Homo sapiens: one gene and its partners. The protein of the gene in region 1 purifies or fractionates together with the protein of each later gene. This does not show direct contact. Each region holds a gene or a part of one and is shown in the gene's direction. Other genes may lie near its edges.

Region 1 (7,028 bases):
TCTTTTAAGTAGGTGTATGCTGGAGCTACCTACCAGAGCAATGTTGTGTTCTGAGCATAATCTGCTCAGCTAAGGAAAGCATGCGTGACTTCCTTGAGAGCATAGGTGTAAATCCAGCTAGAGATGCTCTCAAAATGCTTCAGAGTCTTAAGACAGAAGGAGGACCCAGGGATTAGATTCAGGCCTTCAGACAGCAACAAAGGAGGACAGCAAACCAAGGGGATGTTCTCTGTGCTTTATGGCAGTGGTTCTCGAGCTAGAGTGGGCATCAGACCCACCTGCAGGGATGATTAACAGGGCCCCACACCTAGAGTTTCAGATTCAGTAGGTCTCAGCTAAGACTGAGAATTTGCATTTCTCACAATTTTTTAGCTAGTGCCAATGCACAGAGCCAATGTTCTATAGCTTCTTTCTTTCTGTTTAACCCTTACTACCAGAAGACTAGGATGGGGATTTAGAACACCATGGCTTTCCCACAGTGAATAAGGCCCAGGCCAGATTGCAGTTACTCACTGTGGCTGCTAACCTCATTCATGGGAGTAAAGTAGGATTTTAATTACCTACCTGTTCCTGAGGCTGCATCTCATTTCAATTTAGATAATCTAGTCAGTGGCTTCCCAAAGCCAGTTAAAGCATCAGTGATACTCTGATTGCATAAGCAAACCCAAGGAATTGTTGAAATTACAAATTCCTTTTTCCCGCCCTAGGACATTTTGAATCAGTAGGTCTGGGATGAGGCCTGGGGACCTGTGTTTTTAACAATCTCCTCTGATCATTTAATCCACTTCCGATTTATCTGTCCACAGGCCTTGAGTCTTCCTTTCCATGGTCACACACAATATGTTTCACTAATGCACATTTATTTTGAGTATGTTTACCCAAAACTTAGACTATGCCCTTGGTCAAGGGATTAGCAACCTTTCAAAAGAAGCATGCCCAGTATTTCTTTATATAGCCTTTCATCATCAGAGGTGGCAATGCTGATGGAATGGCCTTTGGTTTAGCTCTGCAAAAAAGCCCTGTGGGTACTCAGCTCTTCAAAGAAGCTCTGTTCCTGGCATGTTTAGAAGTTACTGTGTGCACATACGTAACCCACTCAGCTGTTCCAGAGGAACAAGACCTTCACCCTTTAGGTATATAGTGTGTGCAGTTGCCCCACCGTGGGGGTTGGCAAAAAGTGGGGAGGGCCCTTGCATAAGCTCATTGATAAGTTCAGTCATTTACTCACCCAACCAACAATCACTGGTTATGTGTTCTGAGTCAGGCATGGAGGTATCTTCTCATAATCAAAAGATAAGCAAGAAACAGTTAACTGCCCGCAAGGATTCCACAATTTTGAATCCTAACTTCAGATGCTATCTCCTTACCTCATTTGGCACGTGCATTTGTGCTGGTATACATACCTTTTTCAGCACATAAACTCATTTGGCACATGTGCCAAGGATTGCCAACTATCTTATACACACAACCACACACACACACACACACATACACAGCCTTAAAACAAAAAAAAAAAAACACCAATATCCATGTTGAGTTACTAACTCTAGCATCAGCTGCAAAATTTTATTTTAGGTTGCAGTTCACGCAGTTGTCTTTCAAAAATTTTCGTTATGCTGTTGTTAGTTCTCTGTGCTGGATTTGGTCCACAGTCCATTGGAGGAAAAAACAATTGTATTTATTGTTGTGTTTGGGAGAGGAAAATTCCTCTTTTTATAGAGGTATAAACATATATTAGTTTAAAATTTTGTGTCTAGTATGTAGTCATTAATACAAAACTAGACACATTATTGTTTATAATTATTTGTTACACTGGATCTAAATTCAAATATTTTACATTTATATACAACGGGTTGCTTTATATTAAAATTTATGTGATGCTCCTGTCTTCTCCAGTTTAAGTCAGTCATCAAAGGATGCTCAATCTAGCTATATTTTTTCTTGCACTAAATATAGTGAATCATAAAGTTCGAAGGTGTTACCAGCCCTCTTTGCTTTTAAGAAAGAAAAGATGCACTGTGGAAATGCTGTCTCTCATTTTTAAGGTCATTGATTGGGTTAAAAAGGCAAATGACTTTTTTCATTGAACTTCCTTCAATTAAGCCATTAACCTTTTAAAATAAGTGCATTCAAAAATCTATCAAAAAAAGCTAAATGAGATTTTAACAAAATCCTGACAATTTCAGCTTAAACATATACACAGAAACCATATGTGCTTAGAAAGAAATATATACACACAGGCATTGTTTACAGAGTGTGTTTTTATATTTGGAAGACACTGAAGGAAGAGTTATTCCATACATACATTATCTGAAATGTACATTCAGATAGCCTACATAGATTTCATATTACACACAAAGATATCTTTATCCATGGTAGGTAGACAGACAGACTGACTGACTTCAAACTTGCACTTGCAGTGTGGATTTTTTTTCCTCATCTCCGGGTACTGCTTTTCAAAATTGCCTCAGGCTACAGAACAGCACCTCAGATCCCCAAGGCCCACTGCCTGGCTCCTAATAGCCACTCTCCATCTGTGTCACATGAACAGCTGATGAGATCGCTCCAGTGTCTGTATTTTGGAGAGCACATCCACCCAGGTTAAAATGCTAGGGTTGCCAAGGAGCAGTCAGAAGCCATTAGTGTGGGTGAGAATTTGCCTTGCAGCAGTTCCTTGGCATGGTGGAAAGCGTGTGCACGTGTCCCTGCACGAGCTTGGGTGTGCGTGTATGTGTGTGTGTCTCCTTGTCCAGGCGACACTCCGGTGTACATGGGTGTGCAGGGAGGGTGACAGATGAAAACTAGACTGTATATTATCCAGTATTGAAAGAGTCAAATGCCTTTTGTTTCACTGTATACTGATTCGGTCTTTGACTATATGGGGTCCCTTTTTTCTTATCATAACAGAAGGCAAAGAAAAAGAGAACAGCAACTTCGGGGTCATGCTCTAGTGTTTGGGCAGATGGAAGGGAGCTGCTTTGCCTTGGGGCAGGGTGGTTGTAATGAAGTGGCCTGTCAGTCTGTAAATAGTGAGGGTCATCTCTTCCATGTGATGGAGGGTATCGCATTGCAGTGAAAATGGAAATGTCAATAAAATTAATCTGCCAGCTCTTTGCTGTGGCTTTTCTGCTTCTCTAGTCAAAGAAAGTTGAGGGTTTTTTGGCAAGAAAGGAAAAGAACAGGTACAGGGAAGCCCACAGAGCAGACCCAGAAGTTAGAAGGCAAGTGGCCCAGTGGGCAGGATGGCTGTGCTGTAGCATAGTCCGAGAGGAGGGAGCAGGTCTGGGAATGAGCTGATGGATCTCTAGTATTCCTCAGAAAGCTACAGAGCATCCAGCTCAGGCTACATTGAGCACAGAGTTTATTGTTTTAGGCTTTCTTGGACAAGGTTTTTACTTAGCATGGGATTTATGGCATTTACTGCTAATGAATGTCTATTCTTAAATTACAAAAACCCCCATCTCAGTGCAATTCCCAGATGTCCTTCCAGGACCCTGGCTTCTTAAACACCAGCAGGGAGCATAAACTCTCCACTTCTCTGTTTTCCTCTTTCGTGTGGCTCCAGGCTAATGATGTGCAAGGAAAACACAGCCATCTATAAAGCCCCAGTGCTGTCCCCGTATTCTTCATTTATTTTGCATTTGATTATGCCACAAGTCGGATCTTGTTTCTTTCCTTTTTTTAAAGTTATTAGTTCAAATATTAATGTAGGGATATGGCATATATTGCTGCTCTTGATTGATGCCTTCCCAAAAACAGGAAGACGTGCTCGTATGAATTTTAAGAAAGTAGGGGTCCTGCAATGCCTTGCCAGAAGAGTTTTTCAGATACATAATTTAGATGCCCTCCAGGCAGGCTTTCAAGGCATTTTTGCCAGAGGGCAAGAAAAAATAACTATGACTGTTAAAAGTAAATGATTTTTGCTAATGCACAATTAATGCCAGAGAAAAGCACAGAAGAGAAAGATGTTGATAGAAACTTCTGATTAAGTGAGCACCCTACCTTGATGTGTATCTTTTTTTTTTTCATGATAATGATCAGTGGTGCAGAGAGCTAAAAGTTTTCATGTCATGCAAATGCCGAGTGCAGGGTCATATGAGAAGTGTGCGAATGTGCGTGCTTAGGAGGTGACAGCTCTAGGAGGGGCTGAGCAGGCAGTGCGTTATGTGCAACGAACAGTGACACAGTTACTGTCACCTATGCAGGCAGCCTAGAATATATAGACTACAGAACATTTAACTTGATTACCCTACAGTATGTGTTCACTCTGGGCATGGGGATGCGTTTCCACTGAATAGGTTTTCTGATGGCGGTTTTCCCACATTGGATTCCATAATTGACAAAGAGCTACTGCACTGTGTCAAGTGCACAGTTATAATTGAATTAATGATATGGGCAAGTGTGAGACACACAAAATTAACATTTGAAGAGGCCTGGTTTAATTTTGTCTTTTACATATTTGTGTCTCCAATTATACTTTAATGAAAGAGAATATACTCGCTTAATGGATTTCTTTCAACAAGCTTAGCTGAGCTCATCATTAGCTGCACTTGTTGTTGGCACCTTGCGATGTTTTCTCTAATGTATTTTTATTTCTTTCTACTAGGGGATGGTTTAGACAACAGTGTAGCTTCACCTGGTACAGGTGACGATGATGATCCGGATAAGGACAAAAAACGCCAGAAGAAAAGAGGCATTTTCCCCAAAGTAGCAACAAATATCATGAGAGCATGGCTCTTCCAGCATCTCACAGTAAGTCAAGATGAAAGAGAAAAAAAAAATAGTTTTTGTTGTTTTGCTAGCAAGTTATACGGTCTCATACTGATTTTTTTTTAAACTAAGGTGCCTATTTTCTTATTCTTGAAATCTGATGACTAACAGACTAGTTAAAGTTTTTTTTTTCATCAACTATTACCATCCAAAGAGCACCCTCTAGAAAGTAGCAGGTTTTTGTTTTAAGAAGCTGGGAATGGACTTTATTTAAAATGATCTAAGACCCTAAACAGCATATATAAGTAAATTTGTTATTTATGCTAAAAGTATGAGAGCAACTTCGGATACTGCAACAGCAACCAAGGGAAATGGCTGTAAGGAGCTCACAAATCCATAAACGTTGCTGATTACACTGTTAACGAAAGCTGTCTCCTCTAGGAGGCCAAAAAAAAAAAAAAAAAAGCACCTTGCCACATGCATGTCCAAGCTCACAATATCAGGTGCAGCTTTAATTGCTGAAGCAGTTTACAAATATGTCATGTATTTATATGACAAATTCAGAAGGGTTATAGGTGCTGTAATGCCTTTGTTTGCAAGGTGGACATTAAAGATTCTTTTTTTAGCTGCTCAAGTCCATTATCTTAAAAGCTAACCATGTTCACTTCTGGAAACGGTTTTACTATGTGAGACATTTTAAAAGTAACAATTTATCTTTATCTTCCTGTTTGCAATCCTTGTATGTGTGGATACATACTGTTGACTCTAAGACTCTTATGACAAAAAAATTACAATATATTTTTACAGATAAACTAGGCATGCTTATATTTTACTGTTCATTTGGAAATTCTGGGAAACCAGTAAAAATTTCAGAGGTTGCTTCTTGCTATAATATTGTTTTCAGGCCATTCTATTTAGGCTAATACTTAAAAATAGAGTAGCACATTGAAAGCTGAAGGTCTTCTTTGATTATCCAACTTGTGTGTTGCCATGCTGAATGACATTAGTTACAGTGTCATGGGTCCAGGACAAGGTTCCACTTTTATTTATGGTGGTGGCTGCTGATGGGCTCTTCTTGCAGAGCTACAAAGGGCAAGGGGTGGAGCAGTGGTGGGGAGGGAAAAGTGATAGATTCACATTCCTAAATCGGCCATTTTGATGTAAGGACATTAGTAGCAAACTAAGGTGTATCGATCTGGCCTGTGGTGTCAGGATTAGCTGGGAGAACCAATGAGGCAGCTGTGGTAGTGGTTATTCTTGCCTTGCAGCTATGGCCATTTCAAAGGTCAGGGCCCTGCACTGACTCGGCTCAGAGGAATTAGACAGAACATGCGGTCTCTGGACTGATTACTTAACCAAAGACAAAATAATGAGTCCTAAGCAAATACTGACTAATTGAAAGGGCTGTAAATCCATTACATATTGGTCAGGGATAATCAGGAGTATTTAATCACTTTTATCTATTCAGGAGCACTGAAGCTGCAACAGCAAAGCCCTGAACCTTGCCATGTGGTTATTATTCTCATCATTATCAAAATTACTTCACAGCTGTTCTTTGCTACATCACCTCAGCTGGAGATTTACTAACCTGTAAAATGTTTTTAATTTGGAAGTCGAGTGACTGTGAGGGGAGGGGTTTCTCATTTTTAAATGAAGGTTTGTTTGGTTAGAGTAGCAACTAAGAACGGCAGTGTAGCTGCGGATGACAGGCCAGCTGCCTTCTCCTGACCAGCTCACCTGTTTGGTTCCCTCCCTCTGTCCTCCTCCATGCTTGGTCTTTCTTGGTCGAAAATAAACACTTCAACAGCTGCTTTCCAAGCAAACAGCTACGTGTGTTTTCAACCTCTCTGTCATCAAAACCAATGTCAGAGAACAGTAGAACCTTAGAGAATGCAGCTGCTCTGTTTATAGATGAGGAAACAGAGACCCAAAAAGGGAAGTTACTAGCTGAAGGTCAAGCTGAGACAAGGGCCCGAGACTTCCAAGTCCCCAACTCTGTGATTTTTCCACATTACAATGACTTTGCCAAAATGACGATCACCTTTAACAGTTGCATAGAAATCTCACAGTCTCCACCATCAATACGCTCAGAGTCACAAGGGAGAAATACGGAGAAGCCAAGTGCTGTTTTCTTTTCTTGTTTTGAAAGCTCCGTGTTACCCAATATAGAAAGCCTTACCACCTGTATTTTGTGAGTTGAATCTCACATGGGAGTGTCAGGAGCCCTTAATACCTTATCTCCCACCTCCCTGCCCAGGGCGGCACCCAGCATGCACCATGGCCACCGATTAGAGTTGTGGGTGGCTGGTGATTTCTGG
Region 2 (7,028 bases), on another chromosome or scaffold:
CTTCAGTCCTTGTTGTCGTTTTTATATTTCTTTTATTATTTGAGTTAGCCTTATTATTATTATTATTCAAATTATTATTTGTTTTTTCTTTTTTTTAGCAATTATTATTATCATTTATCTCAGAAAATCTCTATGACAATTGTGTGAAGTACAATTATGATTACATATGAGATAATTGCACCACAGACATGTTATATAACTTGCAAAAAGCCACAAACCCAATAAGTGGTAAAGCCCAAAGCACAGAGGTTTTCTTTCTTTTTTTTTTTTTTGATCATTCTTGGGTGTTTCTCGAAGAGGGGGATTTGGCAGGGTCATAGGACAATAGTGGAGGGAAGGTCAGCAGATAAACAAGTGAACAAAGGTCTCTGGTTTTCCTAGGCAGAGGACCCTGCGGCCTTCCGCAGTGTTTGTGTCCCTGGGTACTTGAGATTAGGGAGTGGTGATGACTCTTAACGAGCATGCTGCCTTCAAGCATCTGTTTAACAAAGCACATCTTGCACCGCCCTTAATCCATTTAACCCTGAGTGGACACAGCACATGTTTCAGAGAGCACAGGGTTGGGGGTAAGGTCAGAGATCAACAGCATCGCAAGGCAGAAGAATTTTTCTTAGTACAGAACAAAATGAAGTCTCCCAGGTCTACCTCCTTCTACACAGACACAGCAACAATCTGATTTCTCTATCTTTTCCCCACCTTTCCCCCTTTTCTATTCCACAAAACCGCCATCGTCATCATGGCCCGTTCTCAATGAGCTGTTGGGTACACCTCCCAGACGGGGTGGTGGCCGGGCAGAGGGGCTCCTCACTTCCCAGACGGGGTGGCCGGGCAGAGGCGCCCCCAACCTCCCGGACGGGGTGGCTGGCCGGGTGGGGGCTGCCCCCCCACCTCCCTCCCGGAGGGGGCGGCTGGCCGGGCGGGGGCTGCCCGCAGCCCCCCACCTCCCTCCCGGACGGGGCGGCTGCTGGGCGGAGACGCTCCTCACTTCCCAGATGGGGCGGCTGCCGGGCGGAGGGGCTCCTCACTTCTCAGACGGGGAGGCCGGGCAGAGACGCTCCTCACCTCCCAGACGGGGGTCGCGGCCGGGCAGAGGCGCTCCTCACATCCCAGATGGGGCGGCAGGGCAGAGGCGCTCCCCACATCTCAGACGATGGGCAGCCGGGTGGAGGCGCTCCTCACTTCCTAGACGGGATGGCGGCCGGGAAGAGGCGCTCCTCACTTCCCAGACTGGGCGGCCGGGCAGAGGGGCTCCTCACATCCCAGACGATGGGTGGCCAGGCAGAGACGCTCCTCACTTCCCAGACGGGGTGGCGGCCGGGCAGAGGCTGCAATCTCGGCACTTTGGGAGGCCAAGGCAGGCGGCTGGGAGGTGGAGGTTGTAGCTAGCCGAGATCACGCCACTGCACTCCAGCCTGGGCAACATTGAGCACTGAGTGAACGAGACTCCGTCTGCAATCCCGGCACCTTGGGAGGCCAAGGCTGGCAGATCACTTGCGGTTAGGAGCTGGAGACCAGCCCGGCCAACACAGCGAAACCCCGTCTCCACCAAAAAAATACGAAAACCAGTCAGGCGTGGCGGCGCGCGCCTGCAATCGCAGGCACTCGGCAGGCTGAGGTAGGAGAATCAGGCAGGGAGGTTGCAGTAAGCCGAGATGGCAGCAGTACAGTCCAGCTTCGGCTCAGCATCAGAAGGAGACCTTGGAAAGAGGGGAGGGGGAAGGGGGGGGGAGAGGGAGAGGGAGAGGGAGCTATTTGTTTTTTCTTTAATTCATTTGTGTAGAAATGAAATGTTGGAATACAGACTGAGCTTGTAGTTAATAAACAGATATTGATATAGCTGTGAAAATGGAAACAGAGGCAATCTATGAATAAATACACTTTTTCCATGAACTCAACCCCAGGACACGGTGGACATTGTCCTTCAAAGCTTTTTTTGCCCTCAGTATGGCATGAGAAAAAGAGAACCAGTAATTCAGGCTGTATCTGCATAAACAGAGTTCACTTAGAAGCTAGCCAGGAATTCTAAATGTGCTAATAAATGGCTAAACCAATAAGCAACAAAGATATTCTGAACCCAAGTTACTATCATGGCTGAATTCCACTCTGCTCCACTGGCTAGGAACAAGAGTAAAACATCAAACCCTGGAAAACAGTCTCTATGTGGTCAACCACAGCACTAGCTACACACCACTGATCTGCTCAGAAGTCACTTCAGATAGATGCTGCATTTGAAAAGTTTCAGGGTTCTGTTCTCTCCTTCCCAAGGGAAGGAGACAGCTCCATTGAAGTTGAGGTGGTGGAGAAGGCATTCAGTGAAAACCCTGTGTTTCTCTACAGGTGGTGACTTTCGATGCAGGGGGAGTAAGTGGCCACAGCAATCACATTGCTCTGTATGCAGCTGTGAGGTATGATTCTCCGGGTGATGGATGTGGGGGAGGGTTTGTTTATTTGATTAGGGCTCATGGTTTAAAGTCTAAAGCACTTTCCCACTTGTTATCTGAGCCCATGAAACTCACTGCTGGCTTATCTTCTAGCCCTTTTTGGCCATGTTGCTCACTGCATCTCACCATGTCCTCTCGCTGAGAAATCTCTCTCAAGTCCTAGTACGAATGCTCGTCTCCTAAACAGCTGAATTCTTTTTTATACACTGAATACTGCGAATGGGGTAATTGACTTTATTCATCTCTTTTCTGTGGCCACAGGAAGCTTGAGGGCCAAATTTGCAAGCCCTGTGGCACTGGACAAGACTTTAAGGAATGAGTGCTGTCAATCAGTGTGCCTCCACCTTCACCATCTTCTTCCCCTTACTCTCACTTCCGTCATGTGTTTTATACAACTCTCAAATCTTTCTTGGAGAAGGAGGATATACATACATAATATGAAATGTGTTTGTTCTTCACAGTCACCCGATTTTACTGATATTTATTTGCATTTTACCAATAAAAAGAAAATGCAAGCTCAAAGGTATTGAGTGACATAGAGTCATACAAACATAGATGTGTTTCCTGTCCCCTAGCAAAGTGCTTCTCCTGGGCCCCTGATCAGTGGTGTGGCAGGCCTGTCCCAGCTACTGAGGAAGGAAAGAAGCAACTTGAAGGGAAGGACTTATTTAATAACCTTCTTCTAAACATGCTTAACACTCAGACTGAAGCAATGCAATATGTAAAGTTGGAAATGACCTCACCAACCATTAAGTCCAATCACTGGGAAGTGGTTTGCCCAGCACCACAAGGTTAAACTATGGCAGAGGCAGAATTCAGGAATCCTAGTTCTCCATTCATTATTCTGTCAGATGTATGTGAAGACCAATCCAAACTGAAGACCCTCCTTGTCCTTAAATTTTACATCACTTGGTGGAAGATGCTAGAATTTTACCCACATACTCTTTCTAGGCAGATTTCCCTGTTTCCTTGACTATGGAATGAGGGGAGGCTAGACTGTTCTCCCTGTAAAGACTATTCGGTTCCTGGTCCAGCCAGCAGCCACAGCTTTAGAAGAGACATGCTCCTAGTCGCATTAGGTCCCTTCAAATTCAGGAAAGAAACATTCCCTGGTTACAGTCTGAAATACAAATTTTTTTGATGATATATGGAAAAATGAGGCAGCCCCAGAGTGGTCTTTCCAACCACATGGTTACTCTGAGGCCTTGAGCTTCCAAGACTAGCATGGACAGCAAGCCCCATGGAGAACTGGAAAAATGGTCCCACCTCATTCTGGATGCACACTGAGCCTGGTGATTTCTCTCCGAGAATTTACACTGCACCAGAGAAAGGATCAGGTCAGGTCTATTGCAAACAAAGAGTACCTCAACAGGCAGGGGGCTGGGGCACTTGAGATTGAGTCACCTGGTCCCATTCCTGGTCCAGTCACCACTGAAGTGGAGAAAATAGAGAAGGCGTCATTCTGGGCAGAGAAAGAACCCAAGGGGACAACTCTGTGTAGATAGAACTGCCTGGGGCCATTTTCCTCAGAAGAGGCTGGAGTGCCACAGGCTCTCAGCACGAAGGAGGGCCACTGTGCTTCAGATAAAACAATTCATGGACATGCCACCAATCTGCCACAACCTTTTTCCCCACAGTCATCTCTTGCCTGCTAAATTCGTTAGACTCACGTTAGTCCTCAGCCACCTTGAACCTTCTGTGGCATCTGGCCCTGCCTGTCCCTCACTGCAATGCTGCTTTGACTTATATGGCACCAGCTTGCCCTCCTCACTCTGGCCTTTCTGGCTACTTCTCATTCTCTTCCCGGCTTCCCTCCCACCAGTGGCCCCTTGGTCCCCCTGTCCCCAGGGCTCACTCCCCAGTCCTCCTCAGCACAGCTTCTCCTGTGGCTTTAAGGGCTATAAGCTCTACTTCCAGACAGCGCCTCTAGCTCACTGCTTTCCCTGGACATCAGAATATCCACAGGGCTTTGCCCAGAGTACAGGACAAGCCACTTCATTCTCAGGATCCCAGAAAGTTTTTTCAGTCTTTTCTTTTCTTTCTTTCTTTCTTTCTTTCTTTTTTTTTTTTTTTTTTTTTTTTTGAGACAGAGTCTCGCTCTGTCACCCAGGCTGGTGTGCAGTGGCGTGATCTCAGCTCACTGCAGCCTCCGCCTCCTGCCTCAGCCTCCTGAGTAGCTGGGAACTACTGGTGCATGCCACCACGCCCGGTTAATTTTTGTATTTTTATTAGAGACGGAGTTTCACCATATTGGCCAGGCTGGTGCCGAACTCCTGACCTCGTGATCCGCTTGCCTCGGCCTCCCAAAGTGCTGGGTTTACAGGCGTGAGCCACCGCGCCCGGCTCCTTTTTCAGGTTTTTCTACCTCTCAGGCTCTGCCAGGCAGTCAGTTCCATGAATTTGTCAATTGTCTCTCAACTTCTCTTGTTTAACCCCTGCTCCCAAGAGTCTCTGTTCATATGTGTGTCTGTGTGTTGCTGGGGCTACCTTCCCAATCCTTCTCTGCCCCCAGCTTTCTAAACAACAAAGTGGGGAAGAGACTTGGAGCTCATTGCAGTTGACACTCCCCTCCTCTTAAGGTGGCGAGCACAGAATGACCTGCACTGTCAGAAGGTAGGCGTAGGGAAGCTCAGAAAGGAGAAAGGAAATATCAGGGAAGAGCTATCAGTTAGCATTGTAAAATATTCCCCCATCATACTCACATTACACTTCCAAGAGAAAAACTATGAAGAGTCCAGCACAGTTACCTTCATTCTCTAATGGGCAAAGCTTGGACCAGAGTACTTCACAAACCACAGACCAGCCTCTGGATTGGCTGTCCCTAGCTCAGGTGCCCATCCTGGTCCCTTCAGCTGTTGCCAGAGGTATGGGATCCTGGAAATCTATACAGTGATTTATGCAAAAGAAACCACCTGGAGACTCACATGGAGGGGACCATGGGCATGGCAGCCTTTCCTCTGAAGGCCCCTCCTGTTACCTACAAAGGAAATGATCCTTACTCCTCTCACTCTTGTCCTATCCCTCCTCCAGGGCCCTGCACTCAGAAGGGAAGTTACCTAAAGGTAAGGCTTGTTCCTTTTGCAAAGGGCCACAAGATACTGTCCCTCTGAGAAACTTATGAGGGGGAAATTTGCAAATCCACAGAGAGCTGCCCTCAGCCGAGCAGAGGCAGTGGTTGGGGAGGCCGCCACACTCTTCCTGACTCACCTCAAGGTACCTGGCAGGTTGTATCTACCAGCAAGTGCCTGCCTGCAGGGCCACCTCTGGATGAGTGGGGAGGCCAGGTTTGCCCCTCAACCTGTCTAGCTTTTTCACAGGGTGGATGTTTTACACCTCTGGTATTCTTCCAGTCTGAACTCAATCCCATCCCCCAACCAATTAGGCAGGTTGTAAATGACTGCTGGGTGCTTGATGAACCAATCTGCCTGAGTTAGGAACTCTTCCTAACCCACATAAAGTATTTGACCCTACCTGACCATTTACTGCATGACCCCCATGCTTAGCCTCTCTGGACCAGTTTCTGGTCTGTCATACCTCACCGGCGCAATACGAAGATTCAATGAATGAAAACGTAAGTAGTTTGTGCCCTTTCTATGTGGGATGACTGAAAGGAGCTTACCAAGCCATGATGACTTTGGAACATGACTATAGTTTGTTTGATTCTTATATCAATCCTGTGAGACAGGCAGGTCTCACACTATCAACACCAATTTACAGATTAGAAAACTGAGACTGAGAGTGGTTAAGGGACTTTGCCAAGTCTGTCAATTCTTGACTGACAGAGCTGGAACCAGGTCTCTAAACTCCCAATACAGTAATTCCTGTCTCCTTTACTTCCTTTGGCTTTGAGGTAGCCAGATCTCAACCTCTAGCAGCCAACCTTTTTCTGGTAGGGCACACCGCAGGGTAGAGGGTAGCCAGCCAGGTCTTCTATGGCCCTTTTACTCGTTCTAGCTGCAAGAATCATGGGCACAGGGCAGCTTTAGTGCCACAGAAACACGTGGCAATGCTGTGGCCACTGTCCTGCCCTGCCCTGAGCCACAGGGTAGAGGGAGGATGCTCAGGGGAAAATCTGGCTGGAGGCCTCAAGGCTTATCACTTCACCCTGTCTCCTCTCCATCCAGGGTGCTCTGTGCTCACGCTTCAGTCTGTGAATGTGCTGCGCAAGTACATCTCCCTTCTGGATCTGCCCTTGTCTCTGCTTCATACGCAGGATGTCCTCTTCGTGCTCAACAGCAAAGAAGTGGCACAGGCCAAGGTGAGGATTGTAAATTCCTGGACACCCCAACTCAGATCCCTGCCCCAGACCCCTGTCTCCTCAAAGCCCCACCTCTGCAGAAGCCCTAACTGAAGGTTTTTCACAGTGGTTCAGCACCTGTCCCTGAGAATTAGGGCTAGGCCAGCTAGATCTTGGGAGGCATAGATTTTTCAATGACTTTAGCCTTTTTTTTCTAATTATAAAAATAATATATGCTTTTTCTAAAAGTAAATAACACATGCTCATTGCAGAAAATCTTGAAAAACATAAAAGCATCAAAAAGAAAATAAAAATAAGAACAATTACCTGCAGTCCCACCAATCACAGGT
Region 3 (7,028 bases), on another chromosome or scaffold:
CAGCAAACTGCTTTTCATGTTGAGACATTTAGCAGCAGGCAGAATTCAATTAGGAAGCATAAGTCCTTTAGTTGCTTATTTGCACAGGACTTAGTTACACCATTCTGAAAGGAAAGTATAGTCAACCACATGTCAAAGGTGAGTTACGAAAAAGAAACAAATCTTTTCAAAGTCTGGGATTACTGGCAGAGAGAGCTTTGGTAGGGCTATTGCTATTTAAAAACCAAGAGGCAGCTGACAAAAGAAATTTTTGTGTTTTAAAATTGTTTCTGGGGCTTTCAGTGATAACTTGTAAATTAGATTCTCTTTTTGTGCTTTGGCCAGTGGATCCACATTTGCACGTTATCTCTTTTGTAAAAAGCCAACAGCCGACAAAGAGTAAAGGCGGCTGTCTGGGTAGAGGCATCTTCCTGCTAGCCTCTCTAAGCTCGAGAGGGATGGGATTTAAGTACTGAGTGATTGATGGGGGTGAAGCTCTTTCTCTTCTTTCCATTCTCCCCTACTACCCATAGCTTCACCTCACTCTCCAAAACTAGTCTTAGAATGAGACAGGGACTCAGAATCCTCAATTCGAAATAAAACAGCTGTGTAGACATTAGTGTTACCAAAGCAAAGAAAGCGGGGCTGCAAATTCCAAGCCCCCCCACTCCTGCTTCCATAGTCGGTCATGCTTTAGAAACATGAACTTATAAAAGAAACATTGTAGAATATATGTATATTGCATAAATATTTTTTAAAAATCATTTTATTTAATCTAATAATACCTAAAAATTAATTCTTTGTAATTTAGAGAAAGTTTACCTAGTCATTTATGAATAGAAACCAGAAACATTATGTTGATGACTCTATTCTGCTTAATGAAGGGGGTTGAGGGTGAACTGTCATTTCAGTGGATAATGTCATTTCAGTTGTGCTTTTCTTCTAAAACAAAACAAAATCATTTTAAAAAAAATCTGTTTATTTGTAGCTCTGCCAGTGGATTTTGAGGTTTCTGATCAGGCAGTGAACACTGCCAGTTCTTATGCACATGGGGGATTTAGTTTAGAAAACATCTGTTTCCCCCTCTACCATATATGAAAAGGTATTTTTCCCTTCTGACAGATAAATGGGTAATCTACTACAATTATATTATTTTCTTGTTGAGAGGTAAGGAAAGTATACTTCTACTATAAGATGCTGCTTTTTCTTGAGAATATATTCTTTCGTAAAATTGATCATACCATTATTTTTGGGCAGAAATGTCTCTCATTGTTGAATTGTGATATTTGTGCATTTTGAGAGCACCCAAAAAGTTGTAGGCTTTAAAATAAAAATAGTTGTTTATTTTAAACCAAGTAACCAGTGAGATTATTGTTGATATGTTAAGATTTTTCTCCTGATTTTTAAAGCCATATTTTATCATCTGTCTCTTATTAAATATCCCTGATGCCACAAGGTCTGCTCACCTGCATACCTCTTTTGGTGTATGCCCCCACCTCTTTTTGGTCATCTTAATCTTAATTGTTGAAGTGCTTTCCTTTGTGAAATATTTCATCCTGAAAAATCTTGTCTTCTTTCCAAAGCCCTTAATTGTGCGAGTTTAAGTGAAGGAAATAGTTCTTTTTCAAGAAAAAAATATTTATTTTTTAAATGAAATCCCACATTTTAGTAGATAATATGAATCACATTATTGTGAAAAATGTTATGCATGAAAAAAAATAAACACAACCTTTTCCTTTTCAAATAATAGGTTAAAATACTCCATGTTGATGGCTGCCAACCAAACTCTGATTTATTGCCACCACAAACCCTAAATAGCGTTCATTTACTAGTAATGTCTAATGGCATACATGATGGTTTGCCAGATTTGTAGCCTTTGTGAGGCTTATAAGTAGGACTGACTTGGGAAGATCATAAAACTTAATGAACTTCTCTACTGCAGGAGGTGTCCGCAGGGGAAGAGAAAGGCCTGCTTGGTTGGTTGGGCTGGTTGAAGTATTTTTTATGTTTAAGGAGAAGAAAATGACTAGTAAAAATGCCTTACTTTTAAAGGAACCCTCCCTAGAAAGAGTCATAAGAATTTTAGATATTAAAACTAGATCAAGAGTATAGTTTACAAGTGAGGTTTTATGTGCATTTAGTATATGATGTGAGATTAAACCTTTTATCTTTATTGCTAGAAGTGTGACTAGCTTTCAAAGAGACAAGGCAGTACTGTCATTCGACACCTCTCTATTTAATTGTGAACCCACAGGTTTAGAGACTCTTTGGAGTCTTTTTTTGGTGTGCTTCTCTTTTTAAGGTTTCAATATAAAAATCTGTTACATTTTTCTTTGTACAGTGCTGTGTGATTCTTTTAATTCTACATATGTAAAAATCAATTTTTTCAAGTGAAAATTTAGCAAGAAAGGTGAAAATTGTTATATATTAGTCTAAATGTTATTATATATTTTGCATATGCTTTTAAGTTGCTCTTGCACTATTTCCAATATAATTATCATCTTTTGTTTCAAGTTTTAAAAACAAATGCACTGTTCCATACATGATTCCTTTTTGTGTTTTCATGAAACACATTTTGTTTTAATGAACTTATTTTCAAGATTTTAACAACTTTTTATTGTGGACACCTTTGAAACATAACATGCAGAGAGCAGAGACTCTTGAACCTCCCATGAACTCAGTGCCCATCTTCAGCAATTAGCAATACTTGGCCAGTCGTGTTTTCTCTGTAATTCCCACCATTCCAAAATTATTTTGAAGCAAATTTTAATGGTTCTTTAATGTTTTAAGTTTCATATCAATTTTAAGCATTAGGTCTGCTTATATTGGAAATATTAAGTGATTAAACAGGAAAAATACAAAGTCAGAGTATCTTGGAAATGTTATAAATTATATTGCTTTATCAATATATTTTTCTTAACTTAATATTTTACCTTTTTTTTTTTCTATTTTTATAGATTTGGTATCTTACTGGAGCTTTTGTAGGAGGTTTTCAGAGAAGTTGTAAAAGAAAGGGATTTTTCTACTTCTTTATTCTTCCATTTCCATCCTAACAAAATAGCACATATAATACATTTGTAGAAAACCTGGAGAAAAATCTCATTGCCAAGCTGGTTTAGAACCTCATGATCTAAAGTATCATGTGGATATTATCTTTAAAATATAGAGACATTTTCCAATCCTGTTCTTTATTTTTTTCTTCCCAATAAAAATGTATTGAACTCTCTTGTCAATACTAACTTGATCTGTGCAAGTAATTCTTTTGTTCCTTAGTTTTAATGACCCTCATTTTATTACAGATTTGAATAGTTTTGGTATTTTATTTGGGACTTTACTATGTTATTTTATTAATTTACATAATTTTATTCTGAATTAGAAGTCTTTTAATACACTAGCAAAGGAGGCCCCGACTTGCCCCAAAGAGCACACTGGTTGATCGGCTTTCATAAAATGTACTTGTCTACATTTTTCATACTATGATGCTTTTCCTTTTAATTAATTTTGCCTGTATATTTCCATCTCAATTTATAAATTTTGTAAAAGGTTACTTCTGAGGCAAATTTAAATTAACGTATTAGTTGGATTATTTATATTTTGATACTTTATAGTGGCATGGTATAGGATGAAGTTACATTATATGAAGTGGGACTATAAGAATTGAAACTGCATTTCGTGAACCACACCCTAAGTCAGTCATCACTTTATTTTGTACTCTACCCTGAGGTATCTATTTAGAATAAATGCTTAACACATCAGCACTAACACATCAAGTTATATAAGGTTTTAGATTATCTTTTCCCTATTCGTGTTTGTGAACATCTTTAGATATTTATTAGTTCAATATTGACATTATGAGAATAATGTTTTGTTTTCTCAGCAGTCTTGTGTTTTAGCCATTTATCAGTGTGATCAGCATGATTTAGGTATTAACTGACTAACAAAGCTTACACATTACCACCACCTCCCCCTCAAGCCCGTGTTGACCTTTTCAAGCATTTGCTCTACTTCAGTAGGCCATTTGAGTCTTCAAGTATGAAGAGAGTAAATAATTTATATCACTATGTAGTATAAATTGGTAAAAGTTTTTCAGAACTAGCTATCTGATTTTTTACAAAGTTATTGAAGTTAATCAGACAAATTGCTATCACATCTAGTTGACAGTGCTATATTTAGCAAATAATAAGTAATTCTTGAATGAGCTACTGAAAAAATAAACCACCTTTTTATGCCTTCAAACTCAGAACATATTAAAAAATAAATTTCATTAATCTTCAACACTTGATTCTAATTATCCCTTTTGTAGGCAGAATTGCAACAAGAATTTCTTCTGTATTATTTTTTCATAGATATATTCCATAGTATAATATGTTTGTAGGTTTTAATGGTAACTAGTTTACTTTGGCACTAAATTTGAGTGTATATCTAGCAAAAAAATTGGTGTGATAGAATGTATCAAACTGAATTGGCGTAACTTTTTTTGTATAACTGTCTACGTAATAGTAACAGGTTAGTATGAAAGCAATTAAAAATATTTATGGATAAAAATAATTGTTAAAAGTTTTCTACTTCTTTCAACTTAAGTGCTTTAAAAATGTTAAGCTGTTTAGACAATAACTCTTTTTTAGTGATCATATTAATGAGGACTTGGTATACAATGTAATCCTTTTAATGCTGATGAGTCCTCACAATGTTTAAACCATTATTTGTGAGACTCAACATGTTATGGCAAAATGATTTTTTGTTTGTTTTGTTTTCTTTTATGTGATACATCAGTTTTCAAAGCATATTTCTTAGGCTTCAGAGTCCAGCAGGTGGCTTTTTACATTAAAAAATTCATAAATTTTAAAATCCCATAAAATTTTATTTCAAATTCAAATTAACTAATTGAGAATGTCAACATTTTCACTGTCTCTATATTAACATTTATAATAGAACAAATGGTTGCATATAGAAATTATCTGCAACAGTCTAAATTAAGATTCTAAACAGGCATTACAGATGCTGGTAACTTTGGCAATTATCATTTTGTTTGGTGAACAGTAGTAAAACAGTGTGCGGTAAAAGTGTTTAGAGAGAGAGGATAAATAAATTGAACAGTTTTGCAATGCAAAGTGGTTTGTGGTGTTTTTGAGGATTTCTTGGCTCTCTCTTAACTGCTATTGTGAGCCTGGAGCAGATTTCCCCATTGCTAATGCCCTAGAAGTATTAATTCACTTTGATATGCTAATTAGAGGGCATTATGCAAGAAATGAGATTAAGTGGCAGCATGAAGCCATTTGCCTGTCAGTAAATTGAGAGCTTTAGCATCAGGAGGAGCTTTGTTTTTTTTTTTTTTTTTTTTTTGAGTTTCTCTTGGTTTTGCATATAAATAAAATTGATTGAAAGGTCTAGAGAAGCTTCCAGAACATTGGTGGATTCTTTTTTCCCCCTCCTATGATTATTTAAATGAAATGTTACAGGATTTTTCTGAATATTAATTGACCTAATTGGAGATACTGAATATAAAGTTTTTATTGTAATGTTTCTGTATAAAAATATACTAAAATTTTTGTGTCACCTAGTCTTTTTTTTCCTAAAACATAATTTCATTAACATGGCTAATGAACTGTTTATCACTTATCTCTTCTCAGAAGTGTAAACTTCTGTGTATGGGCTTGTGCACCAATGTCACTAAATTGAACTTCACAAGGATATTTTCTTCACTAGGGAAGGAAGGAAGAAGTTGAATTGGGCTTCAGAAAACTATATTAAATGAGTATTAACATTCTGACTTGAATCCATAAAAGCTGTAACAATTATAATTCATGGTTAAACTGCCCTTTATACAACCTGTGGAATTTATATTTCAGCATATATCTTATAGGTAAGATTACTGATGACATTTTGTGTGGAAGATGGAATTTCATACTGGATTCAGATTTTGTTGACTTTTGTGGCCTAAGCTAGGCCTCTGAATTTTTCTCTATAAAGCTATTTTGTGATATTTCTTATATTCTGGGGAGAAATACATGAATGAATACTAGGATTGCTGTGGGGAAAGGGAGGAAGACAGACCTTCTGTGCCTACAAGAAGGTTAAGGTTTACTCAAACATGGAACTTCTATCTATAAACCATGCATAGAGGATGGAATTGCAAAATCCTGGCCTAACTGTATTTGCTGGGTATGGTTAGAAGGAAGAGGGTTTGGGTAAGGCATTCCTACTGGGGTTTAGTTCAAGTGTCTGAATTCCACCACTGTAGCTGTGACTCTGGACCCAGTAAACCATATCTTCTCTTCAGAGCCATGTGGATTATTTAGTCACCACAGCTGCCATGCATGCATACTACCAAGGCAGGCATCTCTTCGGTGTGCATGTGTGATGCCTGTTAATGGTAATGTGAGTTACGAATGTGCACAGAAAGGAGGATGAGTTTCTCCTGAGACAAAAGTCCTGATTACATTTCGCTGTGAAGACGACTTTTAGTGTACCTACCACATTAGCTGCTTTTCTAAATGAAACACTTGGTTACTTTAAATTCTCACTCCCTTCTCTGATTCCCTGAACTAGTTAAATCAGTGAATCCTCATTAGTCTCTGATTACTTGCAAAATTTCATTTAAAACATATGAAGTTATTTTTGATTGAAAAGGGAACAAAAAGCTTTTGAAATTGCATGTTATTATTTAAACAAAGGTTTCTACAGGCTTTCAGATGTACTAAGCCCTGCAAATAATTTATAGAGGAATTATTGGGAAGGACTTATGAAATTCTTGAATGGCATTTGATGGGGAGGAAATCATTGCATTAAAAAATATATATATTTGAAATGGCAAGCTTAAATGTGCATCTTACCTTTACTATCCAAGTGTCCTTAAATGAGGAAGAATTGACTTAGGTGGTCTTACAAGTTTCATTTTTCTTTCTTTTCTCCTCCCACCATTGTTTTTTTTTAAAAAAAAAACTACAGGTGAAGGTTGTTGGAATTCATAGTCAGATATATCATTTTCAACTTGGAATAGGAACTAGAGCAGGAAATTGATTTTATATTTATTATGAAAGCAAGAACTC

Evidence for each region. Proteins that work in one complex are often made in the same cells at the same time.
Region 2: the proteins of MEIS2 (region 1) and PIGL purify together in Homo sapiens (affinity purification with mass spectrometry; 3 studies listed by BioGRID and IntAct, with this or other methods). This does not show direct contact.
Region 3: the proteins of MEIS2 (region 1) and PBX3 purify together in Homo sapiens (affinity purification with mass spectrometry; 4 studies listed by BioGRID and IntAct, with this or other methods). This does not show direct contact.

The regions. Positions count from the first base shown.
Region 1 is NC_000015.10:37,034,538-37,041,565, reverse strand, and holds part of MEIS2 (homeobox protein Meis2), read left to right. Parts: intron 1-4,606; coding exon 4,607-4,752; intron 4,753-7,028. UniProt on the Homo sapiens protein: Involved in transcriptional regulation. Binds to HOX or PBX proteins to form dimers, or to a DNA-bound dimer of PBX and HOX proteins and thought to have a role in stabilization of the homeoprotein-DNA complex.
Region 2 is NC_000017.11:16,311,210-16,318,237, forward strand, and holds part of PIGL (N-acetylglucosaminyl-phosphatidylinositol de-N-acetylase), read left to right. Parts: intron 1-2,337; coding exon 2,338-2,405; intron 2,406-2,702; coding exon of another isoform or gene 2,703-2,760; exon of another isoform or gene 2,761-2,963; intron 2,964-5,471; coding exon 5,472-5,503; intron 5,504-5,585; coding exon of another isoform or gene 5,586-5,875; exon of another isoform or gene 5,876-6,565; coding exon 6,566-6,699; intron 6,700-7,028.
Region 3 is NC_000009.12:125,750,373-125,757,400, forward strand, and holds part of PBX3 (pre-B-cell leukemia transcription factor 3), read left to right. Parts: intron 1-7,028. UniProt on the Homo sapiens protein: Transcriptional activator that binds the sequence 5'-ATCAATCAA-3'.